Homo sapiens: one gene and its partners. The protein of the gene in region 3 purifies or fractionates together with the protein of the main gene of each other region. This does not show direct contact. Each region holds a gene or a part of one and is shown on either strand. Other genes may lie near its edges.

What was found.
Region 1: the proteins of ELSPBP1 (region 3) and PFDN1 purify together in Homo sapiens (co-immunoprecipitation; 2 studies listed by BioGRID and IntAct, with this or other methods). This does not show direct contact.
Region 2: the proteins of ELSPBP1 (region 3) and POGLUT2 purify together in Homo sapiens (co-immunoprecipitation; 2 studies listed by BioGRID and IntAct, with this or other methods). This does not show direct contact.

Annotation. Positions count from the first base shown.
Region 1 is NC_000005.10:140,291,777-140,302,772, reverse strand, and holds part of PFDN1 (prefoldin subunit 1), read left to right. Parts: intron 1-2,190; coding exon 2,191-2,357; intron 2,358-10,996. UniProt on the Homo sapiens protein: Binds specifically to cytosolic chaperonin (c-CPN) and transfers target proteins to it. Binds to nascent polypeptide chain and promotes folding in an environment in which there are many competing pathways for nonnative proteins.
Region 2 is NC_000013.11:102,782,500-102,791,691, reverse strand, and holds the end of POGLUT2 (protein O-glucosyltransferase 2 isoform 1 precursor), read left to right. Parts: intron 1-261; coding exon 262-434; intron 435-553; coding exon 554-791; intron 792-2,470; coding exon 2,471-2,680; intron 2,681-3,768; coding exon 3,769-3,858; intron 3,859-5,352; coding exon 5,353-5,460; intron 5,461-7,179; coding exon 7,180-7,197; 3' UTR 7,198-7,411; downstream 7,412-9,192. UniProt on the Homo sapiens protein: Protein glucosyltransferase that catalyzes the transfer of glucose from UDP-glucose to a serine residue within the consensus sequence peptide C-X-N-T-X-G-S-F-X-C. Can also catalyze the transfer of xylose from UDP-xylose but less efficiently.
Region 3 is NC_000019.10:48,002,762-48,013,757, forward strand, and holds part of ELSPBP1 (epididymal sperm-binding protein 1 precursor), read left to right. Parts: intron 1-4,320; exon of another isoform or gene 4,321-4,462; coding exon of another isoform or gene 4,463-4,580; intron 4,581-5,889; coding exon of another isoform or gene 5,890-5,906; coding exon 5,907-5,976; intron 5,977-10,996.

The DNA of each region.
Region 1 (10,996 bases), on a different chromosome or scaffold from region 3:
ATTTCGTTGCGTTTGGAGGCTTCAGGGACTCACTTTCATAGTAAGAACTAAAGAGAGCATTTCAAATGGGGGTCCCTTCGGACCCCTTGCCTGAGCTGTGGCATCCGTAATTCTGCCTCATTTGCTTTGAAAAACTCCAAGTCCAACCTTTGTTTTTAGGCCATTTATTCGGTTCTGTACCTTGAAAGTTGCAATATCTACAGTTCGGAAAACCAAGCATTGTAGCAGCAATGTTCATTTCAGGATTTTGCCCCCCCTCCACTTCTTTTGAAGGACTCGTCAAACAAAACAAAACAAAACCTCCTTCTTTTGAAGGAATTGTCAAAAACAAAACAAAACCAGTAAAGTTTTCCAAATAAAACCGGTATCGGAAGGAATTGGGTTTCCTGTTTTCCTCAGTTGCTTATAAATGTGTTGTTATTCAGATTTTTGCTATCTAAGAATGATCAGCATTCTAACACCACTAATGACCCCAAACCAGTATGCTTTGTGCGGTGGGGTGGATTGGAAAGGACCCTAGAATTTATCTATTTTAAATCTACTTTTCTGGAAAAGGAACCAGTGCCAGAAAAGTCTGTCAGAAGTTGGGACTAGAATCCAGTATTCTCTGCCTTATCTCACACTTTTTTGACCACTATTTTGAGTTCTTCAGATGAGCAACATCTTAGTTAAGACTGCCTGTGGTCAACTTGTGTAAAAGAAATAGGACAGCCGAAATAGCTGTTGCTTCTAACAAATGAAGCTTTTGTTAGTGTTGTGAGGATATTATGTGTTTGTGTCTTGCTTTTGTTCTTCTTGTCTTGAATCTTGTAAATTTAGCTCTTAGGTGGAGTCTCTAATCTTTAACAGTATACTAGCTCATCTTTAATGGTATACTAGCTTCCTTAGCAAGCTGTATAGAGCAGTCAGATGATACCTGGAATTTTACATTTCAAAACAAAATTGTGCATTCTAAAAATTTACCTTTTCTTCTGTTAAAAGTACCGATTTAAATCAGGGTTTAGTGAATGGATTTGCCTCCCGGTACTTTTGAATTTATTGCTACATTTGAAACTTGCGGGCGGTGAATGCAAACTAAGAAAATGATTACAAACTTAAAATGAATAATTTTGATAACCAATTAATTAAAAAACTTGTTTAAAGGTTTTATCTTCTAATGTTTTTACAGGGTCCTTTTTTTGGGTGGAGACAAATAGGAAATTTCAGGCCCCTCCCCTTCCCCAAAGTAAATCTTTCAAAACCTTACTAGTAGGTGAAAACAAGGTCACAATAAAAATTATGTAGTAGCCTTTGCTGTGCATTGCAGTCACAGATGTTATTAAGGCACAAATTTAACAGCATGTGAAAGTCATTCCAGGCACTTCAACAAAAGTATCCAAGAACTGTTTATCTTCCAGTTAAGTAAGTGTACGCAAGGGTCAAATTTGGCCTGGTATCTGTGGATGAAGATCATGATGCAATTCTTTTGCCAGTGCTTTGCATTTTTTCTCACTCTCTTTCTTGGTCTTCCTCTTAAAAATGTTCATATTATGAATATTACTATAGACAGTGGAATGGAAAGATTGCTGAACTAAGGGGTTAGAAGAAATGGATTTAAATAACACCTGCCTTCCCCCCAGTAGTTGTTCAACCTTGTGCAAGCCACTTTTATCTCTTAACTCATTTGGTTACTTAATTTGTAAATTGTGGATGATGAGACTGCCAATGCTAACTCATGGAATTACTGAGAGGCATAAATGAGATATTTATTATATTTCCTCATTAATATTCTTATATTAATATTCCCATGTTAATATTTCAAACTAATGTGAGAAAGTGCTTTGAAACCTAATTGTGCAATACAAATGTAGTGAGTTATTACTTTTATGGTTCTTGTTTTGAATCTCTGGATTTCATCCTTGACTATTGCATTTATTTCTTTTACTACTCCTTGAGTACTTGCTACTTAATATGGTTATTACTTAATATGCATTTGATTTGCTTCACACTGATTGTATCTTCTGATGATTGTAAATTCAGTATTTAGTATGGTGACTTGATTGTTTACAGTTATGTTGACTTTTATTGATGTTTGGTAAATTTCACAGCTTTGTCTCTGGCTAGCATATTTTGTTTTAATATATTTGGATTTGAGGTAAATGTTTCCTGTAAAATGTTTTACCTACTAAATCATGGACTTGTTTTTATTAGGCCTTCACAGAGCTTCAAGCCAAAGTTATTGACACTCAACAGAAGGTGAAGCTCGCAGACATACAGATTGAACAGCTAAACAGAACGAAAAAGCATGCACATCTTACAGATACAGAGATCATGACTTTGGTAGATGAGACTAACATGTATGAAGGTGTAGGAAGAATGTAAGTAAAATGTGTCCTTAATGGAGTTATTTTGGGAGTGCTTTTGTCCGAGTTAAATAGAATTTGTTCATCTTAAAACTTGGGTTAGGCCAGGAGTGGTGGCTCATGCCTGTAATCCTGGCACTTTGGGAGGTCGAGGCGAGTGGATCACTTGAGGGCAGCCTGTTGGCCAGTATGGTGGAACCCTGTATCTACCACAAATACAAAGATTAGCTGAGCATGGTGGCACTTGCCTGTAGTCTTGGCTACTTGGGAGGCTGAGGCAGGAGAGTCGCTTGAACCCCGGAGGTGGAGGTTGCAGTGAGCCGAAATCATGCCACTGCACTCCAGCCTGGGCAGCAGAGCTAGACTCTGTCTCAAAACAAAAGAAACTTTGGTTTAAAGTAAGTATCTTTTTCTTTTTGAGACGGAGTTTTCGCTATATCGCCCAGGCTGGAGTGCAATGGCCCGATCTTGGCTCACTGCAATCTCCGTCTCCTGGGTTCAAGCGATTCCCCTGCTTCAGCCTCCTGAGTGACTGGGATTACGGGCGCTTGCCACCACGCCCTGCTAATTTTTGTGTTTTTAGTAGAGACGGGGTTTTACCATATTTGCCAGGATGGTCTGGAACTCCTGACCTCCTGATCCGCCCACCTCAGCCTCCCAAAGTGCTGGATTACAGATATGAGTCACCACACCCGGCAGGTTAAAGTATCTTAGAAATAACTTTAAAGATTATCTAATTAAATGCTTTCTTTTTTTAAAATGAGGAGCTGAACTTCAGGTAGATTAATTAAAGTGTTTAAGTTTAGACTTTAAAGTACATTTTTTTTTTTTTTTTGAGACAGAGTCTCGCTCTGTTGCCAGGCTAGAGTGCAGTGGTGTGATTCTGGCTCACTGCAACCTCCGCCTCTTGGGTTCAAACAATTCTGCCTCAGCCTCCTGAGTAGCTGGGACTACAGGCGCATGCTACCATGCCCGGCTAATTTTTGTATTTTTAGTAGAAATGGGGTTTTACCGTGTTGGCCAGGATGGTCTCAATCTCTCCTCTTGATCCGCCCGCCTTGGCCTCCCACAGTGCTGGGATTACAGGCGTGAGCCACCGCCCCTGGCCTCAAAGTACATTTCTTAAGTGCTTACTTTCCTGTTCTGTCTATGATTAGGTACTTAAGTGTAAGTTCAGTAATAAAAATGATTTGTCATGGAAAATGTTTATAGCAATATTATATTGTATGTGAAGAAGATTTATTTAAGTAGGTGCAGTTTTAACCTCCTCTTCCCTGCTTAATTTATTAGGAGTGATACAAATCATAAATCTTTCAGATGTCTGATCAGTGTTGTAAAATAAAAATAAAAATTCAATTGTCATTTAAATACACTCATTCTGGCCAGGCATAGTGGCTCATGCCTGTAATCTCAGCACTGCAGGAGGCCAAGGTGGGTGGATCCCCTGAGGTTAGGGGTTTGAGACCAGCCTGGCCAACATGGTGAAACCCCATCTCTACTAAAAATACAAAAATTAGCGAGGCATGGTGGCGCACACCTGTAATCCCAGTTACGAGACTGAGGCAGGAGAACTGCTCGAACCCAGGAGGTGGAGGTTGCAGTGAGCCGAGATTGCGCCATTACACTCCAGCCTGGGCAACAAGAGTGAAACTCTGCCTCAAAAAAAAAAAAAGTAAAAAATACACTCATTCTAAGTGTCATGCATTGTTCTAATAGGAGGACAACTCACATGTGAGAAATCTAGTAAATTATTTTACTTTTGTTTGTTCTAATTAATACATTATTAACTTCGTACATTTCACTTTTTTTTCTTTTAAAAGCATATTGCCCTTGTGAGAGAGAATAGGTCTGCTTCATATTCTGTAAGCAGAAAAAAAGGAATGGAAAAGCCCTTAAGTACAGGTCACATTCCATTACAGTGAGCTAAAAGGAGAAGACTGATTTTTTTTTTTTTTAAGTTGGGGGGAGGTACAGGAGGAGGGTTTTTCTGGAATTTGGTCTTTGAGTATTACTTAGTAAGTAGACCATTACTTCAGATTTGGAGATCTTTTAGTTAGAATGGAATTTGACCTCAGTCTCGGGATGACTTGTTTTGTGATTGATTTGAAGAAAGAATAACATGTGTAAAATTTAATAATGACTTTGGAATGACATCATGAGAAGTAGACCTGCTCATCACTGACTAATCCATATCTTTATGGTTCAGAATTAGATTATGTTAAATTGTTCATCTGATTTGCTTTCTCAGAATGAATAATGTAGCACAAGTAAATTTTATGTCCAAGCTCATATATTTCATTTTAGTTTAAGAGGATAAGGATCCCAATTTGAGAGTTTGTTACTGGGACACAAAAGAATTGGAACAAAGTAGAACCCTTGAATATGTGTCTGTGTAGTATGAAATGCATTGTTGGCATTCACTACAGGATAATTTTATCCTTAATGTGAATATCCTTAGGTCTTAAAACAGTAATGCCAGCTTTATTAACATGTTGTACTTGGATTTCACATCACTGCGCTAGCCTTTGTTTGCAATAGCTAAAGAATTCCTTTTTCAAAATAGAAAAAACGTTTTACTCCCTTTGGGCTTTTGAGCTACAGTGAAGTTTTAATTTTTAATTAGAATAGTTTCATTTATTAAACGTTCTGCAGAAGTGTTAGGAGAGTTGTTTTTTGTACATATTTTCCAAAGTGCTACAGATAAGTTGTTTTCCATACCAAGAATTTTGGAGTTTAAAGGCTAGGATATGAATTAATAAATAGTAGAATGGTATTATTTCCAGAAGGTTTATTTCATATAAATTACGTTTCTTAAAAGAAGTGTGGAGTTTTAAATGTTTGGATAAAGTTGAGCTTCTACATGATTTCAGACTTCTGTTTTAAATTTGACTTTAGTGCTGTCTGCATCTCACCGGGAGTATGAGTTTGACCCTGTATTGTAGGGGCATGTAAGGTGAATAGCGTTTGTTGTTTGGCTAGCGTATTAGTGCCCTGAGAGGAAGAAAAGACTTGCTGAGTATTAGTCTGGTCATGAGGATGTTCTCTTTCTTGATGCTAAACCTGAGATATCTATTTCTGAATTTATAGTCGAGTAATTTTGGGTATCATTGTGATTCACTTCTTTAATTCTAGTCTTTACCTTACTTTGTTTTTTCTTTTCCATTTTGAGTGTTATTTGGGAATTCTGACTAGAATATTACTTTTTCCCAAATTTTCATTTTAAAACCGTAATAAAATGGTTATAATAAAATCCAAAACTTCATTTTTCTTTTAGAACATGCAGTAGATTTTCCCATTGCTGAAATTCAGGTCTCATTGCTTCTTGCCTGGACTTTTATGATAGCATCTTAACTGTTCTTTCTTCCTGCCTTCATTCTGTCTGTCCAAATCCATTCTTCACATATCTTTCAGAATTAATCACATCAATATTCTTCCTAAAGTCCTTTGTTCATCCTCTGTTGTCCACAGGATAAAATCTAAACTTGTTGGCCTTGCATTCATGGTTATTCATAATCTGTTCTTAATTTACCCTTTGCCTCAAGTCCCACCACTTTCTTTTTCCAGGGTTAGGATAGCATGTATATTTCATCTCATGGACCTACCTCCTTCTACTAGTTTGTGTTATATGTTGAGAAGAATTTTGAGATGTCAAATGGGTTTTAAACATGCTTTAATTGATTAGTGATGTCTGTTACACAGTGAGGGTAGAAGAGTAGTAGCACATGTACTAGAAATTGTTATCCTACCCTTGCCACATAGGTTTCCTCACACATGTTATGTTTTTGTGCTTTTTTGCTTTTGCTCAGTCTTTGGCGAATAACATTGTCCTTGGCTGGCAATATTCCTCTTTTCCTTGTGAAATTCTTATCCTTCAAGACATAGCTCTACTCTTACTTTGCCTCTGAAGATTTTTTCAGCCCCTGGGGCAGACTCATTCACTCTTTCCTTGGCGATAGTAGGGCTTTTGTTCCTACAGCTAGTAAAGCACATTGAGTGTGTAGGTGTGTTTAAATGGGTCGGTCTTCCCAGCCAGATTGTCAGCTCTGGGAGACCATGTATATATATTATCTTTGTTTCCTCATTCTCAGTATAATGTCTGGCACAAAATAGCTATTAAATGTGTATTGATTTGAATTGAATCTGATTCTTTTTTCTGGCCTAAAATAACTTTTTTCTTTTGGTTTCTTAGAAAAAAAAGTATTTTAGAAAGTGTTAGAGACTTAAGAATGAGTTTATTATCCTATTTTAATATATGATCCATGTAAGATGAAATTATAAAAGTAACATATATTTTGACTAAGGTCAAAAAAATTATATCTGACCAAAATCACGTCCTCTGATCTGACAGGATTAATTCTTCATTAAATATATTGAGAAGGTTGTCTAATTCTAAATACCAGCCAGTTGAAGAGACACTCAGAACTAAAAATATAGAAAACCCAAACCTTAAAGATTATGCTTGAGGGTAGTATAATCCTTAGAGAATAAAGGCTATTTTATGCATAATAATATCAATGTATTTTTATCCATTTTACCTTCCTCATCTTCACACAGAATGTAAGTCAGATTTTTTTTTTTTAGGGTATGTATTTAGTTAAACAAATCATTGCAGACCCAGATATCTTTCATTTCATAAGTATGGACACATTTTGTAGTGTTAAATACCTCTTATACATGGCTATTTTTGGTTTAAAACAAGGAAAGTCAAGCTACAGGATAAGAGATGATGAATTGCTATATACTGTAAGCTCTGAGTATTTGTTGCTCAAAGCTATATTCCATCCAGTCTTTTGGCGTGTTGCCAGCACATTTTAGTTCTCTTACTTCATCTTCTTTAGAGAGGCTGTTATGTAGCCTGATACTACTACCACCAATTTCTAGTTTTGCTACTTAAGCTGTTTGTGAGCTGACCTCACCATACTGCTTTGAGAACTATGATGAAAGTTACAACTGGGGAATGATCTGTCTGAGTATTTGGAAGTGTTTGTCTTTGCATCTTTCTAGCATGCAAGGAGGGAATAGACAAATCTTAAATGTTATGTGAATATTTCTTGTATATATTTTTTCATGGATAAAAATGTTTATAATTGCTTGTGGGGGTTTTCTTCCTTTTCTACTTTGCATAGTAGAGGATAGGAGTATTTTTAAAATAAGAATTATATTTGAAAGTGCATATAAATGACATTTAACCATACTAGTGTTTGAAAGGACCATCATTAGAATAAATGTCAAACTTACTTTTATGAACAATAAGTATGATCCTAACCCTGATTTGATGTCAGATCTATTATTTGAACACCCTTTTTGCTTGAGCATTACATAAATAACATTTCTTTTTTCCAAAAGAGACAAATTAACTTTTTTTTTAATATGAGGAACTTGAGTAGATTAGCCTTTAAAAAGAACAATTAGTGCCTTTTTAAAACTTGAACCTAACTAAAAATAACTTTGTACCATATTTAAACTAATTTAGAGGTATGCTACCATTCTGTGGGTATTTTTTACATTTAAGGAACTAAGAATGAACAATGGTATAAATCTGCCAACTAGATAAGTGTCTAGCAATGCAAAAATTGCTGTTTGGGAGCGGTGTTACTATTTCTACTTGTTGAAGTAATTTAATGGTTGATCTCTAACGGTTGAAAGATCCAGAAGTGTAAAACTTAAGATAAATGTGGCATAAGTAGAAAGTGAAACAGTAGGTGTATTCCTGATAGGTAACAATTAAAAAAAATCTAAATAGTTAAGCAGTTTTTCAACTGTTTAGGTTGTAGAAATCTGAACTCTTTATGACAGCTTGGCTGAACTGCCCTTTGTTTAGAATGTTATGTTGGTTTTGTTGTGATTGTATTTCTTAGTTTGGATGTTGACCTATAATTTGAATCGTGGCATTTAGTAAAGGTGGGATGAAATATATGCAGCTTCCCTTAGTTATGTTAAATGTTAATAGAAAGGGGTATGCTCATACTGCTTCAAGTTTTGCAGCCCTTTTACAATTTCATGTAGCTATAGAGTTGGTCTTCCAGTCAATTTCAGGTAATTTTAAAACTGAAGAAATGGTCATACTATATTTTATTGCTAAGAGATTAGGAAATGAAATTTAAAAAATCTTAGTATAGTAAATATTATTGATATTGTTGATAAATACTGTTGATATTACAGTGAAAATAGTTTATATTGTTGCTCTCAGCAGAATCAAATTTGGATATTTTATTTAGTGCATACTACAGGGGAAAAAATAATGTGTGAGATTACTTTTGGTGTGAGAGTCACATTGCAAATGCCAATTTATAAATTCATTTTATACCCTCTTTAAAGGTATTAATCTGTATTTTAGAGAAAGTGAAGCAAAGATAGTTGTCAAAAGTAAGATGAGATTACTTTTTAGATTTTACTTGAAGAAAGAGAAGTTCTTGGTGTTCAGCTGCTTTTACTAATAGAACATGACCCACCCTTCTTGTGTTTTTATACAGAGCCATTTAAAGTCATGGCTTTCATTGCCCAGAGTTCTAAGGGAAAACAACAACATCTTTTCCTGTTGTGCAGGGAAAAATGACTTAAGTTTTGTTGACGCTGAATATGTATATAACCCCAGATGGGCACACATTCCTCTTGCACAGATTTAGTACTCTGGGGAGAGGAGATTTTTAAGTCATATTCTTAATTTCCTTAAGTTGTCAGTGATTTAAAAACTTGATGTTCATTATAACTCTGCTCTACTGCTGTCTAGAATGACATCACTGTTTTTGTGCCAGAGGGAGTTAACAAACATTTGCGTAAGAATTACATAGTCCTGTTTCTTCTGCAGACGAGTACTTTTTAATAATTATTTCCCTGCTTCCCCTCCCATATGCCCCAGTCTAAAGATTCTCACCAAAACACAGGAAATTAATTTTGAAAATGTTATGCTAATTAGATGTCTATTGTTAAAAAAGGGAAAAGTCTGTTATCTTGGAGAGTACAAACATACTAAAATAAACTTGCTATGGGGTTACTTATTTTAGGCTTTGGACCTGTTTTAAAAACATAAATGTAATTGATTCATTTAGCTACTTGGTGGACTTTGCTTGCTTCTGCATTTCCTGACATCAAAAGACCTGGCCTTTTTTTTTTTTTTTAACTGACAAAGGATTAAACAAAATCAGCCTTTGTTGTATGAAAAGTAGCAGTCATTTGCGGGATACTACAGTGTTTTCCAGTCAATGATAAGCAACTGAGCGAAAGGTGAAAAGTACCATTTGCTTGCTGTTCCTATGTAAAAATATTAAGGTAGCAGCAGTCTTGAACTGTTAACTTTGTCACTGAGGAATTGTGTGCTGTAACTGACTTAATTAGCTGAATTTCTCTGAAAACAGTCAATTTTAAGCCATACCAAGAATTTTCTGATTTTAGCTGCCACTTATCTCATAGTGCAAAGTTAGGAATAACTTACTATCTAATCTGAGAGAGAGGACTGAAATGTTCATGTCAAGGAACATAATCTGCTTAATGAAATATCCAAGAAGGAGCTCAGAAAAATATTGACTTAGAAGGTGAGTCAGTTCATATATATGAACACGCACTTGGTAATGCCTTTTGTCATTCTTTTTTATTTATAATATCAGAAATTGCTGTTAACTGCAAATATACTTTACTCTGATGAAATACTTAGGATTACTAGTGTGTTACATGTACCATTAGTGCCCATGCTTTTGTGAAGAGTGTATCCTTATTTCATTTATATAATTTAAGTTCAAATGGACCTGTCTGGGAGAATGTTACTTCATTGTCCTGGCCAGGAACTCTTATTACCAACTCTTGTTTTGCAGTAGATCAGTTGTCTTGAAATGAACTACATTACTTGGAAGCTACTATGCTTTTCACTTTGAAGAGGACTTGAAGTATTCTGATACCAAAATTGGTACAGCAACAGGAGTCTAGTATCAAAAATGTATCTTTAAATAGATAAGAGCATGACTGCCCTAAGCCCAACCTTTACACTGGCTCAGAGTAAAAAGATTTGGATCACAATATGCATCCTGTATGTGTGTGTCTGACTGAGACTTTGGCATTTGTGCCAAAGTATATTTATATTTCTCTATGACATTCTGCTTTTGTACAAGGAGTACTCTGCTCTCTGTCTGTCTTCTAATACTCATTGGATAGTAATTTTAAAATATTTTATCTATTGCTATATTTTAACTTACTAGTAAAATAAAGATCATATCTTGGAAAAAGTTATGGAATAACTCACTGCCTATACGTGGAATGTTTGGGGTTTGATGAAGCCAGAGTAAAAGTGGTAAACATCAGAGGTGCTTACTTACCAGAATACTTAGAATACCAAATAGTAACCCGAAATAAACATCATGTTTAAAATAGATTAACATACTACTGCTTCCATTTCAGGAGTAATAGTTTTGATTTAAAAATAGGCAGTAATTTTTAATTAGTAAAAATTGAACATAGCAGTGTGTGTTACTCTACTAGAACAAGGAACGCTTGTATGGGATTGGGTTCTGGAAGGGACAGTGATTCTCCAGTAATTCCAGTGAGTTCTCAGTCCTCATCTTATTTGACCTATCAGTACCATTTGGTCCTGTTGACCTTTCTTCCTTGAAGCACGTTCTTACCTTGGCTTGCAGGACACCACTTCTTGATATTCCTCCCACCTC
Region 2 (9,192 bases), on a different chromosome or scaffold from region 3:
CTTTGATCATCTTAGAGGCTGTTCGCAGTATTAGAACAGAGATTACTTTTGCAGTTTCATCCCTTTCATAGGGAGCATAGAATACTTATACATGTGACCATATTCTGAAACATTGCCCACTATTCAAACCAAGGTAATTATTATTACCTGAAACATGTAACATTGGCCTTTCATTAATGCAATTTCAAATTTAAATTGATAAATACAATGTATTATCCAATGCAGGAAATGTGAATAAGCTCCTCGTTTTGTTTTTTCTAGGTGAAGATGCCAGATGTGGAGCTCTTTGTTAATTTGGGAGACTGGCCTTTGGAAAAAAAGAAATCCAATTCAAACATCCATCCGATCTTTTCCTGGTGTGGCTCCACAGATTCCAAGGATATCGTGATGCCTACGTACGATTTGACTGATTCTGTTCTGGAAACCATGGGCCGGTGAGAGATAAGTCAGGGTTGGCCCAGAGCCTTGGTTTTCTTTCTTTGGTGAGTTCTTTTGCAACAACCTTTGTGATATGATGATTTGGGAGGAAAATCTGTTGCACTTTGTCTTCTAGGGTAAGTCTGGATATGATGTCCGTGCAAGCTAACACGGGTCCTCCCTGGGAAAGCAAAAATTCCACTGCCGTCTGGAGAGGGCGAGACAGCCGCAAAGAGAGACTCGAGCTGGTTAAACTCAGTAGAAAACACCCAGAACTCATAGACGCTGCTTTCACCAACTTTTTCTTCTTTAAACACGATGAAAACCTGTATGGTCCCATTGTGAAACATATTTCATTTTTTGATTTCTTCAAGGTATGACTTAATCAGTAGCTAATCTTTTTTGTTTTTCTAATGTATTTGTACATAGTGCTTTGGGAAGGGAAATTAAGGCCTGCAAATTTCAAGAGGTGGGAGAAGTTAGCACAAAATTGAGCGAATATTGAGACATGGGGGTGCTGGGGACTGTTTTGGCAACCAGGGTCTGCCCTCACTGCCCAGTCTTGATATTAAATGCGCATCAAGGGAGTTTGGAGCCTGGATAGAGCTATAATTTTTTTCCAGCTAACCCTTGAGATAAGCACATGTCACCTCCAAATATGTTTTTATTAATACTTACATGTAAGTCATTTTACAAATACTTTTTCCCAGAGCCATGTTATCACAACAGAATAAGGAAGATATAAACTACTTGTTTCTTACCAGGCCTTCTGGTGGGGAATGACGTGAAACTCATCCAAATGTTCTGTCTGGGAATTAGGGTTTGCTTTCTCTGTCTAGAATGTGGATTCCGCATGGTTCCTGGGGAGTAGTCCTTTTTCTAACAACTCCTTTTATAAGGCAGTGGGCACCACCCTGCTCTTTAGACCATGGAGTTGTTTCTGAAGTCCCCCATGGTAGAGAGAGAGGTGGGAAAAAGGTCATCATCTGTCCTCTGTATGTGGGAAGACAAGTGATTAACGAGTTCTGTCTGCCCTGTAGATGACCAAATTTTCTTTTGATGGGTTTTGTTGAGGCAGGTTGACCTAAATGTTAACCTTGTTCAATGTTAAAGTTGAATTGTCAGTATTTTTCTATATGCATATCCCAAAGATTTTTGAAAGAAATGATTATAACCAAAGTGAAAGGATACTAGCCAACCTTCCTCAGTGGAGGGGTGCTCCATCCTGCCTTGGCTTTATTCCTGCCTGTTGAATTTTCTGCAACTAAAGATGATAGATTACCACAGTTCTATGAATATTTTTATTCATAGGTGTTCTTGCTCCAGAGCTTGCTAATTTCTTTAAGACATATGTCTGGGTGTTTAAAAAATACGGTTAGCCAGGCGTGATGGCTCACGCCTGTAATCCTAGCACTTTGGGAGGCTGAGGCAGGCAGATCACCTGAGTTCCAGGGTTCGAGACCAGCCTGGCCAACATGGTGAAACCGCATCTCTACTAAAAATACAAAAATTAGCTGGGCGTGGTGGTGCGTGCCTCTAATGCCAGCGACTGGGGATGCTGAGGCACAAGAATCACTTGATCCCAGGAGGTGGAAGTTGCAGTGAGCTGAGATCACGCCACTACACTCCAGCCTGAGTGACAGAGCAAGACTCTGTCTCAAAATAAATACATAAATAATACGGTTAACATGGCTCAGAATATGCCATCATTAGGGGCACATTTGCAATCAATAAAGTAGCAGGAGAATTACAAAAAGTCACAAATGAATCCATCCTTCCTTATGTTGCAGCCTTAGGACAGCAGTATGATTGTATTCGCTGCTTCAACACTAGATTTGTATCCTTTGTAAAATTGAGAAGCACATCAAAATGAGCATTTAGCTCTAGATCAACCTGTTGTTTAATAACACTTACTAAACGGCAAAGGCAGAGCGTGGAAGCTGACCAAATTGTGTCTGAGGATTGCAAAGGTTTATGTGTGGGATGGGAAGGAGAATAGAGTGGAGAAAAGGAGATTTAATAGAGGTTCTTAGACTTTACCATTGTTTTGCAGCATAAGTATCAAATAAATATCGATGGCACTGTAGCAGCTTATCGCCTGCCATATTTGCTAGTTGGTGACAGTGTTGTGCTGAAGCAGGATTCCATCTACTATGAACATTTTTACAATGAGCTGCAGCCCTGGAAACACTACATTCCAGTTAAGAGCAACCTGAGCGATCTGCTAGAAAAACTTAAATGGGCGAAAGATCACGATGAAGAGGTAAGGTTAGTCCCCTTGAAGGCTTATTTCCACTTGTTTCCCAATATCATGGGTCCTTTTGAAATGTATTGTACCTGGAGAGCATCCAGGATGTTCACGTAATAGACTTTGGCCTGTAAATGGGAAGCTGCCTGCCCATAGATGGCACGGCAGTTCCCCTAGGCTGAACACAGCGGGCACTGCATCTTACATTAACTCTCCACTCTGCATGTGAAACAAAAAGCTAGGCTGGGTGCGGTGGCTCGTGCCTGTAATCCCAGCACTTTGGAAGGCTGAGGCAGGCAGATCACCTGAGGTCAGGAGTTCAAGACCAGCCTGGCTAACATGGTCAAACCCCATCTCTACTAAAAATACAAAAATAAGCTGGCGTGGTGATGGGTGCCTGTAATCCCAGCTACTGGGGAGGCTGAGGCAGGAGAATCACTTGAACCTGGGAGGCGGAGGTTGCAGTGAGCCGAGACCACACCATTGCACTCCAGCCTGGGCAACAAGAGCAAAACTCCGTCTCAAACAACAACAACAAACAACAACAACAACAACAAAAAGCTAAACTGTGGCCTTGATTACACTTTCTCTTTCAAGTAGCGTTGCTCTGAGCCACAAGCATTGCCTCCGCTAGCAATGTGAAAATTGTAAGATGGCCAGTCTGGCAGAAGTCACTAACAGGCTCCAGGTTAAAATGAGGGATTGATTCAGAAGTAGATGCAGCCATAAATACAGAAATAAAGAGGGATGGAATGCAATAAACTTTAAGCTAATTGTCTCCTGAAATTTGTGAAGGCAGCTGGCTAAGCTTCATCTTGCGTTTACAAAGTCATCAGTTTGCTTGGTGTACAACCTTGTCTCTCCAGGAGAGGCTTAGTTCTAGAAGGTCCAATATGACTTTTCAAACTTTTAAGTCTTAGAAACCTCCCTCTGATTTAAACAAACATACTCTGTTAAATGTTCTGTTTTACCATGAGACTACCCCCAAAGATATTATTTCCCACAGTTGCCCCAATGTATACATACTCTGAAGAGCAGTTTGCAGATGCCTGCATGGGAAAAATGGATTCTATTACAGGATTTTGTCGTTGTTCTTCCTGTAGGCCAAAAAGATAGCAAAAGCAGGACAAGAATTTGCAAGAAATAATCTCATGGGCGATGACATATTCTGTTATTATTTCAAACTTTTCCAGGTCAGTATTTTCCAAGAAAATCATCACGTAACTTATAAGTAGACATGTTAAGAACAAATAATATTTTACTTAACAATTTCTAAACATATGTTACTATAGGGAGATATATATACTTCTGTGGATGAAAATCAGAGACAAATATTAAGTAATCATAAAAAAATAGTTGAAAACCAAAGATTAGCTAATGGAAAATGTTACAATATTAAGCGAAAACTATTAATATTAGAACTATGTGATGTCTGACTAAGAAATTGGCCTCTGATCCTACAAAGTTACAGTGCATGGATTTGTATGTTCTCTTTGTGTTACATTGCTGCTGCCTTACCATTTCTTTGTCTAAACAGTGCCAGGTGTGTTTGGGCCTCTTGTCTTGACTCTGTATGAGCCATGACTTCCCTTGGAAATTATTTCCATGGACCTAAGCATTTAGAGATTGTAATCAAGCATATCCGACGATTTAAAGGACTCTTTTAAAAATGTGGTAGTAGGCCGGGTGCGGTGGCTCACACCTGTAATCCCAGCACTTTGGGAGGCTGAGGCAGACAGATCACCTGAGGTGAGGAGTTTGATACCAGCCTGGCCAACATGGTGAAACCCCGTCTCTACTAAAAATACAAAAATTAGCCGGGTGTGGTGGTGCACACCTATAATCCCAGCTATTCGGGAGGCTGAGGCAGGAGAATCACTTGAACCCGGGAGGTGGAAGTTACAGTGAGCCGAGATCGTACCCCTGCACTCCAGCCTGGGTGACAAGAGTGAGATTCTGTCTCAAAAAAATAAACAAACAAAAAAAAAAAAACAAAATCAGGTAGTAAACAAGTTCTTGGCTAATAACAGTACTAGATCTAGAGTAAGAGTTTTATCTCACAGTTGCAGATACTGAGCCCCATATCTGAGGCTCTGCTACAGATCAAAGTTGGTGTATTTCTGGCCTGTACTGGCTCCTCCCGATTTTGTAACCTTCCCTTGATAGAGGGAAGCAGAGGACAAACCGTGTAAAATGAATAAACTGGGGGGATTTACCATGTGAATTTCTAAGGATCCATGGGGCAGTGTTCATTCATTTAGCATAGGTACTTAGCACAGTGCTTCACTCAGAGTAAGCACATGATAAATGAAGATGATGATGGAGGCTTGTGCAAGCCATGATAAGGAAAGCAGAATAGTCTCTGTCTTCACATTCTCAGTCTAGGGAAGATTGTGTGCAAAATTATTTTTACTGTGAGGCAGAAGACGGTTAAAAAAAAAAGTCATGGAAATTTAGGATAGCATAAAGAGGTGTCTGTTAGGAATAGGCAGCCAGTGTTCAAAGGATGGCCTCCTCTCAGATGCTCTACTGTTGATGTTCAGAACTGGTATATATGACGGACTATGCAGATCACAGTTTGACACACATGAGTTAAATGAATCATAGTCTTCATATATTCTAGCCTCTCTCATTGGGTGGATATAAAGTGTTTTATAAGGAATGCTTTTATATTGTTGCTTAAACAGGAATATGCCAATTTACAAGTGAGTGAGCCCCAAATCCGAGAGGGCATGAAAAGGGTAGAACCACAGACTGAGGACGACCTCTTCCCTTGTACTTGCCATAGGAAAAAGGTAACCAGAACTGAGCTTATGGCCGGTGTCAGAGTAAAAACTAACATTGATCCAAACTTGCTTTTATTCCTATAGTCATTCAATCAGGCAGCAAATATTTGAGTTCCTCTCGAGGTCTCCAAGCAATTCAGTCTGCCAGAGAGATAGGTATAAAAGATAGCAGTGCTCAAGAAAGGATGCTACAATGCAGTTAATTGAGAAGACATGGTAGCTCCCTGGCAAAGTGGGGGGAAGTCTTTTATAATGTGAGAATCCAGCTCACACCCTATTTGAATGGATGCTTACAGTCTGAAAAATATTTTCATGTGTATCATCTGATGCCCTCATCTCCTCATGAGATAAGTTTGGCAAAGTTCATCATCCCAGTTTAGAGAAGGAAAAATATGTAACCACGATTATTAATGTTTTCCAATTCTTCATTTGAAAGTCATCTCAGTTGATACCACTACATAAGGATCTCATTGATAAAAATGAAAGTCAGATTCACATCTGGACTTTTAAGGTAGAAAGGACCTTAGAAGTCATCCAGTAAATGCCTTCATTTTATGGTTAACAAAACTGAGCCCAAAAAGGAATTGTGCTCAAAATCATCTAGCTGGATTATAGCAAAGCAAAAACCAATCTCTCATCATCAGATTGTGATTGTGTGTGCTTGTATATAAAGCTATAGTGTGGCAGGGGACTGTTGCTTTGATTATGATTTTTGTTTGTTTGAAGGAATGTAAATTGCATAAACTAGAGTGTGTGTGTGTGTGTGTGTGTGTGTGTGTGTGTGTGTGTAACATATGCTGACTTAACATTTTAGGCAACATAATTAGGTTTCTGAATGGACAAGTTCAAAATTGTGGTATTATAACCAAAGACAAGAAGGCAGATTTGGCAATTATTATGTCTACCTCTCAAGGAGGTGTAAAAGGAATTAAGGTGAGGCTGGCCCCAGTGATGTGACAGAACCAGCTTATATGAGCTCACTGATAAATATTCAGGAATTTTGCATACTAGTTAAATTTTTGGTAGCTTGGAATCATCCTGATAGGAGTATTTACACCATGACAATCAGCACATGCTACAAATCAGAATTTTGGCTGTTTTATTTTTGTCTTTGTTTTTTATAGAACTCATTAACCACTAACCAACTGGCCCTCAGAGGTGGTTCGTCATCATTGTGAACTCTGTCAGTGCTCCAAGGCCATAAAAATCAGTTAAAACCAATGATAAAACAAGAATTGCCAAATCGAAAGGTTCCCCCTCACCAATCCGTGATTTGGTATCAGAACACTTCTCACTTTGGCTCTAAGTGAGACTGGCAGCTTCCTTGCTCCACTCCTGCTCAGTTATTTATCTTCATCTACGTGATTGAGAGGAGGTACCCAGCCAGTTTCTTCCACTGAGTAGTAGAAGTTAGGGGCCAGAATGATAGCTTCGTTTATTTTTTGCTCATTGTCTATCCTAGTCTTTCACCACTACTGTTCATAACATGAGGCCTTTACAGTAGTACAGCCCATGGATGTTTGGGTTCCTTATCAGTAGGCTATGAAACACAATGTGATTTTACCCTTAGCTGACTCTGGGCCTCTGGAAATAGTCCCAAGCCCTAAAAGCCTCTAGCAGCAGCTTGGCTCCCTCTCATCTTTACAGGAAAATAATTAACGAATGTAAGTCTTCTTCACTTGTGTAAGACTTCTTGATAGCTCTAAATATTTTGCTTCTTAATTGCAGACCAAAGATGAACTCTGATATGCAAAATAACTTCTATTAGAATAATGGTGCTCTGAAGACTCTTCTTAACTAAAAAGAAGAATTTTTTTAAGTATTAATTCCATGGACAATATAAAATCTGTGTGATTGTTTGCAGTATGAAGACACATTTCTACTTATGCAGTATTCTCATGACTGTACTTTAAAGTACATTTTTAGAATTTTATAATAAAACCACCTTTATTTTAAAGGACTACGTTGTGCTAATTATTAGCCGTGTTTGGAACAGAGAGCAGTAAAAACAGAGAGAATCTGGGTCCTTAATGCACAGCAGCCCAGACCACCTGCCCAGACTGGTTTTAAATGACAAAGCAATGAACCCCTGTCTCCTTTTAAGCCCATATTATTGTGGGTATTCAGCCAAACTTAATTCTAGCTAATACTTCGTACAAGGCCAGTCATTAGATGGCCTCTACCTGCATCTTTAGTCAAATCTCTCAGCACTTTCTAGTATCAATACTGTCCTCTGGAAGAACGAGTCCTCTCCCAGTTCTGTCAATGCCTGTGTCCTTACCTTCCTGGCTCTTGCCTTTCCCTTGTCCTGGAATGTCTTGGCCCTCTTTTCTTCAACCGGCTTACACATCCTTCAGCACATATTTTATCCTTACTAGATTTTAAGTGCCATGACCTCAGAGACCAGGCCTTTCTTCTGGGTAGTCCTAACGTCTAATAGAGTGCCAGCAACTAGAAAGACTGAATAAATATCTAATGGGTGATATGGTTTTGATGTTTGTCCCTTCCAAATCTTATGTTGAAATGTAATTCTGAGTGGTGGAGGTGGGGCCCGGTGGGAGATGTTTGTATCTTAGGGGTGGATCCCTCATGAATGGCCTGGCACCATCCTTGCAGTGACAAGTGAGTTCTCACTGTGAGTTCACATGATCTGGTGGTTTTAAAAGGTGTGGCACCTCCCCCTCTCTCTGTGTTGCTCCCTCTCTTGCCACCTGATACCCTGGCTCCACTTTGCCTTCCACCATGATTGGAAGCTTCCTGAAGCCCTCTCCAGAAGCAGATGCTGGCACCACACTTCCTATACAGCCTGCAGAACGATGAACCAAAATAAATCTCTTTTCTTTAGAAATTACCCAGCCTCAGGTATTTCTTTATAGCAACACAAAAATGGCATTAACACAATGAGTAAATGAATGAATGAAAATCACTTTGAAATGCAGTTAAAAGAATTTAAAAAGAACTAAAAATCTGAACACTGAACCATATATCATATTCTACAAATTCCTTTACCTAATATTCTCTCTTCCATTCATCTTCCAGTCAAATAATTTTTTCTAAATTATTTTGAATTTTGAAATAGACATACAGAAGAATATAAAACATATATCTGCAATTTAAACATATATCTGCAATTTAATTATAAGAAAACATCCATGTAATCACTGACAAAGATTCTTTGCTTGACCACCTGTATTAGTCCATTCTCTCGCTGCTAATAAAGACATACCTGAGACTGGGTAATTTATAAAGAAAAGAGGTTTAATTGACTCACAGTTCCACAGGGCTCAGGAGACCTCAGGAAACTTGCAATCATGGCAGAAGCGGAAGAAAACAAGTCTTTTCTCACATGGCAGCAAGGAGAAAGCACCAAGCAAAGGGAAAAAAGCCTCTTATAAAACCATCAGATCTCGTGAGAGCTCACTCACTATCATAAGAACAGCATGAAGGTAACTGTCCCCATAAATCAATTACCTCCCACCAGGTCTCTCCCACAACATGTGGGGATTATGGGAACTACAATTCAAGATGAGATTTGGGTGGGGACACAGCCAAACCATATCATTCCACCCCGGCCCCTCCCAAATCTCACATCTCACATTTCAAAACACAATCATGCCTTCCCAACAGTTCCCCAAAGTCTTATTTCATCATTAACCCAAAAGTCCAAGTCCACAGTTTCATCTGAGACAAGGCAAGTCTCTTCCACCTATGAGCCTGTAAAATCAAACACAAGTTAGTTAC
Region 3 (10,996 bases):
AGCTTGGGGTGCAGAGCAAGACTTCATCTCAAAAACAAACAAAAATTCTGGCTTGTATGCTGTCTTCATAAATAGTAATGAAAATATCTGGCTTGTATGCCCCCTCTGACATTTACACAGTGCTTTCCAGCATCTGCTGCATGTATAAGATCCCAAGGTGGAGTTTATTCTCCCTCATTTGATGATTGGAAAAACTATCCCCATATTTTCCTGTGGTTTGACTCCATAGCCACAGCAACCCTTTTTCCGACCAGCCAAGAAACAGCAGCGGTGGCAGGATGCTGGTCCCAACCACCCCGGGGCTCAGGACAGAGGGTTCTCCAAGCATCTGAACCTGCCAGTGCCCAAAGCATAACTTGGTCCTCACCTGGATGTTCCAGACGAGACATGGGTGTCTGGCTATTAGGGCTTGTTTTACAGTTGAATAATTATTTTGAATGGCCCCTAAAATATTTTCTATGAATATCCATAACTTGGTCTGTGCAGAGTCATAAACCTTCCAGACCATCAGTTGCTACCAATTCTTCGAATTTGCACAGAACTCTTTATTGCACAAAGAAGCAAGCCATGCAAATAGCTGGGGTCAAGGGATCATCCCAGGCAAAGAGAAGAGCGAGTGCAAAGGCCTTGAGGTGGCTTCTGCAGGAAACAACTAAAAGGCAGATCGAGGGAGGGGAAGGAAGATAAGAAATGAGTTTGAGGGAAGGCACAGTATGGACTAGGGATTGTATTCTAAAGGTGATGGAGGATTTTGAATGAATAAATGCCACCCCTGCTCTTTTTTTTTTTTTTTTTGATGGAGTCTTGCTCTGTCACCCAGGCTGGAGTGCAGTGGCACGATCTCGGCTCACTGCAACCTCCGCCTCCTGGGTTCAAGTGATTCTCCTTCCTCAGCCTCCTGAGTAGCTGGGACTACAGGCACCTGCTACCACGCCCAGCTAATTTTTTTTTTTTTTGTATTTTTAGTAGAGATGGAGTTTCACCATGTTGGCCAGGCTGGTCTCGAACACCTGACCTCAGACGATCTGCCCACCTCATCCTCCCAAAGTGCTGGAATTATAGGCATGAGCTACCGTGTCCGGCCCACTCCTCCTCACTTTAACCCCTCCCGTGGCTTCTGGTTGCTTCTATTCTATTCTATTCTATTCTATTCTATTCTATTCTATTCTATTCTATTCTATTCTATTCTATTCTATTCTTTTGAGACAGTCTTCCTCTGTTGCCCAGGCTGGAGTGCAGTGGTATGATCTCGGCTCACAGCAACCTCTGCCTCCTGGGTTCAAGCGATTTTCCTGGCTCAGCCTCCCGAGTAGCTGGAATTACAGGCACGCACCATCATGTGGAGGGAATTTTTGTACTTTTAGTAGAGATGAGGTTTTACCATGTTGACCAGGCTGGTCATGAACTCCTGACCTCAGATGATCTGCCCGCCTCGGCCTCCCAAGGTGCTGGGATTACAGGCATGAGCCACCACACCTGGCCTTCTGGTTGCATTTAGAATCTGAGGGAGGCTCTACAGGGTCCGGTCCCATCCATCTCACCATGCATCTCTGTGGCCTTGCTCCTCCTCACTTGTTGTAGAGACGAGGTGTCACTGTGTGGCCCAGGCTGGTCTCAAACTCCTAAGCTTAAGCCATCCTCCTGCTCAGCCTCCCAAAACACTGGGATTATAGGCATGAGCCACTGTGCCCAGCCTGGGCCTTAGCCATGCGGGTCCCACTTGCTCCTTGAGCACATCTAGCTTTTTCCATCTCAGGCAGTTTCCACGTCGGCTTCTCCTGCCTGGATGTATCCCCCACCCCCATACCTCCAGCTCCTCTCACGTCTCCCTCCTCCATCTGTTCCTCCAGGTGTCAGCTTACCTGTCATTTCTCAGAGCACCCTCCCCTCACCTCTCAATCAAAAGTGACCTTGTCCTAGTTGTTCCTGAGACTCGTCCACAGCAATGATCACAGCGAAGAGTTGTATTTGTTTCTGGTTTCTTCGCTTCATATCTGTCTCCTTGGTTGACTCTCAGCCCCACGAAGGCAGGGCCTATGCCTGCTTTACCCACTGCTGCATACTCATCGTGTAGCCCTGGCCCCACATCTTTTAAATGCTCAATAAATACTCATTCCTGAGTGGATGCATAAAGCATGCATCAGGAAAGGGCCCATACTGGGCACAGTGGCTCTTGCCTGTAATCCCAGTGCTTAGGAGGCTACGCAGGAGGATGGCTTGGGCTCAGGAGTTTGAGACCAGCCTGGGCAACATAGCAAGACCTCGTCTCTACAAACAATAATAATAGTTTAAAAATTAGCTGGGTGTGGTGATGCGTGCCTGTAGTCCCAGCCACTTGGGAGGCTGAGGTGGGAGGATCACTTGATGGGAGATGGAGGCTGTAGTGAGCCATGATGGCGCCACTGCACTGCAGCCTGGGTGACAGAGCAAGACCCTGTCTCAAAAAAAAAAAGAAAAGAAAAAAGAAAAAAACAAAAAGAGAAAAAGAGCTCAGCCTTGTAGAGGAGAGAGGCTGGAGGCTGCATATCAGTGAGGCAACAGGACAACAGTTGAATAGTTGAGAAGAGAAATGAAAAAGGCCTTCCTTTAGTCTTTAACAGCAGAGGCAGGAAAAGCGGATAGATTCAGGAGCTCCAGAAAGTAGAACCAACTGACTGATAGAACACAGCAAGAGACAGGGACAGCAGATCTACACTGGGGGCTACAACTCAGGTGGTTGAGAAGAACATAGTGCAATTAAATGAAGTAACATGGGGGAAGGATAGCATATTTTGGGCTGTATCTCAACAGCCAAAGCTTGGAATTTGAGATGCTTGAAGGACATCTAGGTGGACATGTCTGGGAGGCAGTTGAAAATACAGTTCTGGCTCTCAGAAGTGAAACAATACTATATGAACAATACTATTTTGGATGATATTTATGAGTTCTTAGCACATGTCCGGTCCCATGTTAAGCCTAGAGGCAGCATCGTACATTGGTTAAGAGCTCAATTACTCTGAACTGAGTCAGATTGTTGGAGTTCACTTGCAAGTTCTCCAACTTGCATGATCTGTAACCCTCAGCAAGGTGCTTAAGCTTACTGTGCCCCATCTGTGCATATCTGGGGTAGTAATGGTACCTACCACGTTGGGCTACTTCCTATCAGGATTACAGTGAATTTAGAATAGTGTGTAGCACTCAATGAGTTTTATCTGTTTTTTGTTTTGTTTTGTGTTTTGAGACAGAGCCTTGCTGTGTCGCCCAGGCTGGAGTGCAGTGGTGCGATCATAGTGCACTGCAGCCTCGACCTCCTGGGCTCCAGTGATCCTCCCACCTCAGCTTCCTGAGTAGCTGGGACTACAGGCATGCACCACCATGCAAGGCTATTTTTTTTATTTTTGTAGAGATGAGGTCTCACTATGTTGTCCAGGCTGATCTCAAACTCCTGGCCTCAAGCAATCCTCCCATCTTGGCCTCCCAAATCTGTCATATTTTTATGATTGTCGTTAATCATCATAACAAGGCTGAGTGGTAGATAGGATTAGCATCCTCATGTTTTGACACGACGAAACTGAGGCTTAGAAAATTTAAGGTTGGGCCCAGTGGCTCACGCCTGTAACACTAGCACTTTAAGAGGCCGAGGCGGGTGGATCATTTGAGGTCAGGAGTTCAAGACCAGCCTGGCCAACGTGGTGAAACCCTGTCTCTACTAAAAATACAGAAATTAGCCAGGCGTGGTGGCACGTGCCTGTAATCCCAGCTACTTGGGAGGCTGAGGCAGGAGAATCGCTTGAGCCTGGCAGATGGAGGTTGCCGTGAGCTGAGGTGGTGCCACTGCACTCCAGTCTGGGCGTCTGGGCGACAGAGTGAGACCCTGTCTCAAAAAAAAAAAAAAAAAAAAAAAAAAGAAAAGAAAAAGAAAATTTAAGTAATTTCCCTGAAGTCACCCAGCTGGTAAACGGTGGAGCTGGGATTTGAATCTGACTCATTCATCCTGCATTGTCAGGTCTAAGTCCTGACTGAGCCACTAGCCAAAGAGAATGAGAGTCCTTCACAAGTAGTGAATGAGACATCACTCAGAAAAAGCCTGTTTGAGGCATGGTGCTGGGGTTAAGAGTAAAAGGCTTCAAGGAAGAACGACAAGAAAAAGGGAGAAAGACACTTTGATGTGTAGCGGGAGAGCCAAGCACTGTTGGGAGAGGAAAAAAGTTTGGGGCGTGTTGTGTGGCTCAGATACTCAGTGGTGCCACCTACCTGTGGGAGGACTTAAATCAGTAACTTTGGGATTTTGATTCCTGGCGGTATCTGGGTTTCTTGCTAAAAGTTGGTTCCATCTGATGCCTTCCCGAGCTATCCTGACCTTGGCTTTAATAATTCATAAATGCCACTAACGATCTACAAGTGAAAAGCATTTTCACATCAAGGTCTAATTGGACCCTCGTGGCCACCCGGAGACACAGGAACGACTAAATACATTCTGCAGATGAGGAAACAAAGGCTCATAGAGGGGAAGGGGTTTACGTTGCCTAAGAACTCTGACACTAGTATAGACAGGCCCGCACTGACTCTGAGATACATCACGTACCAGCTGTGGTCCTTTGGTAAGTTACTTAACCTCCCAAGCCTCAGTTTCCCTTTTCTGTGAAGTGGAGATGATCATGCCTGCCCTTAGATTTTCAGGAGCAAATTGGATTGTGGATACAAAGCTTAGGACATCCGGTATACAGTAAGCAGTCAATAATTGGGAGCCAGCCGTAGAAGTGGTGATAGTAGCTGAGACTCAAGTCAAATCCAGACCACCAATTCCAAACTGTGGGTTCTTGTTGCTGCTGAGAATGGCATGGTCATCTGTCATCAAGGAAACGGCACGAAGGAAAATAGAGCTAGTAATAACTATGGTTAATGAGGACGGTAAATGCTAATCACTGAAGGACTTTCGTCTCCAGCTAAGGAGATGAGTGTGATTCATGGGGAGGATTTAAGGCTATTGTTAAGGTTCCAACAATGAGAAGGGCCCTTGCAGCCATTAATATGGGTTAGAACCCAGACCCTGCCCTTTCCTCCCTGGGTGACCAATCCAGGTCTGAGTGTTAGTTTCTGCATCTATAAAATGGGGGTTAAAACATGTATTACTTGATTTATGAAAGCCAAGTGACATAAAGTGTGTTGAACATCGAGCCTGGAGTACAGTAAGTGTTCAACAAGTGTTTCATTTTTTTCTTTCCATCACACTTTCCTAAGGACAGTACATGACAGTAGAGTTATGCATCAGGAATACAGTCTGAGAAGTGCATTGTTAGGCAATGTCGTCCTTGTGTGAGCATCATAGAGTGTACTCACACGAACCTAGATGGTAGTGCCTGCTACACACCTGGGCTATATGATACAGCCTGTGCTTCCAGGCTACAAACCTGTACATACACACATGTAGAAACACACACACATATCACACACACATATGTAGAAACATATGTGTGTGTGTGGTATATGTGTGTGTATGTGTGTATTTAGAGATAGGGTCTCACTCTGTTACTGAGGCTATAGTACAGTGGCACAATCATAGCTCACTGCAGCCTTGACCTCCTGGGCTCAAGTGATCCTCTTGCCTCAGCCTCCTGAATAGCTGGGACCACAGGCATACACCACCATGCCTGGCTAATTTAAATGAAAATTTTGTAGAGGTGGGGTCTCACTATGTTGTCCAGGCTGGTCTTGAACTTCTGGCTTTAAGCGATCCTTTGTCTTGGTCTCCCAAAATGCTGGGATTACAGGTGTGAGCTACCATGCCTGGTCTATTTTTTAAATTACTGTGGATGGAAAGAAAAATGGCATGTATGACGTCAAATCTAGGAGGTAATGGGAAGAGGAAGGGGACGTGTGGGATGAAAATTTTTGTCTTCTTTTCCACAGAGAAGAGGGCAGCCAAGATGACCCGATGGTCCAGTTACCTGTTGGGATGGACAACCTTCCTTCTCTATTCCTATGAGTCAAGTGGAGGTAAGGACACTCAAAGCAACAGGGAGGATTTAGAAGCTGGAGAAGAATGAATGGGGCAAAGCAAAGATTCCTGGAACTAAGTAGGCAGGAGATGGCTTAGCAAAAATCTCAGAAGAAGCTGGGCGCGGTGGCTGACACCTGTAATCCCAGCACTTTGCAGGGCTGAGGCAGGCAGATCACTTGAGGTCAGGAGTTCCAGAGCAGCCTGCCCAACATGGTGAAACCCCATCTCTACTAAAAATACAAAAATTAGCCAGGCATGGTGGTGAGCGCCTGTAATCCCAGCTACTTGGGAGGCTGAGGCAGGAGAATCGCTTGAACCCAGGAGGTGGAGGTTGCAGTGAGCCGAGATCGTACCACTGAACTCCAGACTGGGAGACAAGAGCAAAACTCCCTCTCAAAAAAAAAAAAAAAAAATCTCAGAAGACCTGGGGTTTGGACCCTGGATCTGCCACTTCTTTTCTTGGTAACTTTGGTCAAGCAACATAAGCTCTCTGAAGTCAATTTCCAGACTGTAAAAGAGAAGTAACGGCATTTATCTCACGGGGTTATTTTGAAGATCAAATAAAATAATGGGCACCAGCATCTTTCATAATGCTCAGCACATGGTGGGGGTAAAAGGCAGGCTATATAATTCCAGTGAACAGAACCTTCAGACCCCAACCTGGACAACCTAATTATATCTTAATATATCTCAGAATCTAAATTAACCACTAAAAGACTGTAAGGTAAGCATGGAAACAGAACAAGAGGAAACCTTGCTTACATGTCATTCACTCAAGCCTTGGTGAGTCATTCTTCACAATTAGAATCCTTTTCTGCCTGATAAATCGTTCTCCTCTGGATAAGGCTCAGGAACCATTTGCATATTGATGCACCTTGATCCCACATTCTTTATTCCAGAGATTCCTAACCTGGGGTCATTGAGTGAGGATTAGAGTCCATGAAAACTGGAATTTACGTTTTAAAAAAAGTGTGTATTTATGAGGGTAGTGAGAATAGCTATTGTAACAAACAAAATCCAAACTATCAGCTGCTTGACACAATAACATTTTTTTTTTCTTGGTTCTGCAAAATCCCAGAAGGGTGCATCTGGTCAGGAAACAATGCTCCACATGGTCATTCAGGGATCCAAGCTTCTTACATCCTGGAGCCCCAACATCCCCTACGGTTTCAGAGTCTGCTGAGGTTTCTTTGCTTTTAGCTTGTAGACAAGTATCAAGAGAGTCTGGAGGACCTTGGAGGAGAGGGTTTTTTGTTTGTTTGTTTTCTTTTGGCCAGGACAGGAAGTGACATTCATCCCTTTCTCCTGCTTCCACTGGCCAAAACTGATATGGCTCTTAACTGCAAGCAAGTCTGGGAGATGCAGTGTAGCAGTGCATTTGGGAGGAAAGTGAAACTGATTTCGGTGAACACACAGCCATCTCAACCATAAGGGCATATGAATATTCTCCTAGAGAGAAGTTCTGGGTTCTCAAAGAACTGACAAATTCCTGAAAGTTTAGGAACTCACAGTTTATTCAGACAAGGAACAATGTACTTGATGGGGTATCCACTTTTCTAGTTATAATCTCATTTTTGTCATGCCTCCCTGAGACCACACCCACATACTTGTGGTGAAACTCAGTATTCCAAGTTCCCTTTGCGTGTATTTACAGATAAATTATTCAGTATACACTTACTGAGTGATCTTTAAGTTCCAGACATTGTGTTATGGACCAGAAGTGCAGAAATAAACAAAACCTAAACCCTCCACTCAGAGAGTTCACAGTAATCGGGAGTTATAGACACATAAATGAATTATTTTTAAAAAATTGGCAACTGCATTCATTTATAGAGATTGACTCTGAGTATTATAAGTGTGAGGAAGAGTATTGACCCAGACTGAGCCAAGTCTTCATGGATGAATAGCAGGGACTAAAGCTGGGAAGAGAGGAAAGGCATTCAGGACAGGGTGAAGGGCAGGACCAAAATCTCAAAGACGAGAAAGAACATGGAATAAGGTCAAGGGAATGTTAATCAGGGAGTGAGAACAGGCAGGTCAGCAGGGTCTGGATTATAGAGGATTGTAACTCAGTTAAGAAGATTAGGCCATCTGCTGGATTACTTTGCAGATGGCTAATAGTATTCATTATGTGCTGATTCTTACTAACGACTCCCAAAGATAACCTTAATTCCACCTACAGGGGCATCTGCCCTCTCCCTCAACACAGTATCCTATATACTCAGTGGTGTTCGTGACTGAGGCAAAGCATTGATAATGACAATAATGACAGTGAAGATGACAATGATAATGATGAGGATGATGATGATATGACGATGATGACAATGATGACGGTAATGATGACAACAATAATAGCGACAATGACAATGATGATGGTGACAGTGATGATGATGACGATGATGATAATGATTATGACAATGATGTGATGAGGAGGAAAATAATGATTACAATAATGATGACAATGATGATGAGAATGACAATAATGGGGTTGATGATGATGATGACAATGATTGATAATGATGATGACAATGACGATGATGATCACCATGATAATGACAATAATGAGGTTGATAATGATGGTGACAATGACTGATGATGATGACAATTATGACGATGATGATGATGATGGTGACAATGATGATGACGATGATAATGATGATGTCAATAATGATGTGATGAGGAGGAGAATAATGATCACGATGACAGTGATGATGATGACAATGACAATAATGAGGTTGATGATAATGACAATGACTGATAATGATGATGACAATGATGATGACAATGACTGATAATGATGACAATGATGATGATGACAATGATGATCATCATCACATGATAATGACAATAATGAGGTGGATTATGATGACAATGATGATGACAACGATGATGATGATCATCATCCTGATGACAATGACAATAATGAGACTGATGATGGTGACAATGACTGATGATGATGATCATGACAATGATGATGAGCATTATGATGATGCCAATGACAATAGCGTGGAGAATGATGATGATGACAGTGATGGTAATGATGATGATGATGACAATGATAATCATAGCTAATATTTATTAAGCAGCAGCCATGCTCCAGGTACTCTTCTAAGCACTTTCCAGATTTAAACTGGTTTAAGTTTCACAAAAATAAATACCAAACAGTTCTGAGAAACAAGGTGAAAAATGCAATGAACTAACAGTTGAGCAAGTTGAGCTCTCATCCCAGGTCTACAAAAAAAAAGCAATCAACTTTAATTAGTCCTTATTGTACGTGGGTTTTCATGTAATGAGGAATTTGGGATAGAATAGCATTTCTTTCTTTTTTCAAAAAAATTTACACATCAAAATTCTGCAGAACACCGTTTTTGTTTTTTGTTTTGTTCTGTTTTGTTTTGTTTTCAGACAGGGTCTCACTCTGTCACCCAGGCTGGAGTACAGTGGTGCAATCATGGCTCACTGTGGCCTCAACTACTCAGGCTCAAAGGGTCTTCCCCTCAGCCTCCCAAGTAGCTGGGATTACAGGGGCACACCACCATGCCCGGCTAATCTTGTTTGTTTGTTTTTTTGTAGAGATGGGGGTCTCACTTTGTTGCTCAGGCGGGTCTTGAAGCGATCCGCCCACCTCAGCCTCCCAAAGTGCTGGGATTACAGGCATGGAGCATTGTGCCTGGCCGAGAACAGCATTTTTTGATATATTTCAGGGACCATTAGTCTCTAGTGCCATTGAATTTTGAAAAAAAAGAAGGACAACTCGATATACTGTATTCATCAATTCTCATTTTCATATTAACTTTTCTGTTGAGTCCTTCATTAAAGAAACCTGTTTAACTTTATTTCACGTGGCATTTTTCCAAACTTATTTTATTGTTTCTGTTGTTTCTTGAGCAAATAATTATTCTAGGTTCTGTAGATACACTGCACAAAAAACAAAGTTCCTGTACTCATTGAGAAGAATAAGGACGTCGAAAGTTGTCCCCTCAATATTTGCCACATCTGGGTACCACCAGTACTATTATTTACTCAACATTTTTCTTTAAATTTGCTTACTTTTCTTCACTTTAAAAAATTCATTTTGGGAGATTGGTTAACATCAGTATTATAATATAAAAAAGCACTACCACTTTCCATAAATAGGAAGTACGACCAAAAAGAAATACTGTACTATGAAAACAAAATCCCATTATTAAATTCTGCTAGACTATCGTCCGAATAAAGCTTTGAGTTTGAGTCCTGCTCCCCACCCCCCTCTCTTTTTTGTTAAAATGGGAGATTATTAAGTATTAGAGATGCAGTAGAGAAATACTACTATTAAATTGAAGCTTTCTCTTTTGCGTAAGCAGAAGGACTAAAAGGACCACTGGAAAATGATTTTTTTCTAGTCTATATTTCAAAATTATTTAATGTGTGTCCTTACATAACCTAATGTGATCTTGTGATCCACCAAAAAGTATTTTGTGTAATGTCATTGGCCCCCCATTTTATGCTCTGAGAAACAGTGGTCTCAAGGAACAACACACCACGGTTGTCTTGGTTGTGTATGAAACTCTTCCCCAGTGCTCCTGGCCCCAACATGAACTGGATATGCTCTGACATGTCATTAGGAAATTGGATGCTAAGCCTAGGTGTGTAGCCTTCAGGCCACCATGAGAACTGTCTCAGTCCATTTGGGTTGCCATAACAAAATACCACAGGCCAGGCATGGTGGCTTACGCCTGTAATCCCAGCACTGTGGGAGGCCAAGGTGGGAGGATCACCTGAGGTTAGGAGTTTGAGACCAGCCTGGCCAACATGGCAAAACCCCGTCTCTACTAAAAATACAAAAATTTGCTAGGTGTGGTGGCGGGCACCTGTAATCCCAGCTACTTTAGAGGCTGAGGCAGGAGAATCTCTTGAACCCAGGAGGTGGAGGTTGCAGTGAGCTGAGACCAGACTACTGCACTCCAGCCTGGGTGACAGAGTAAGACTTCATCTCAAAAAAAAAAAAAGTAAATAAAATAAAATTTAAAAAGTACC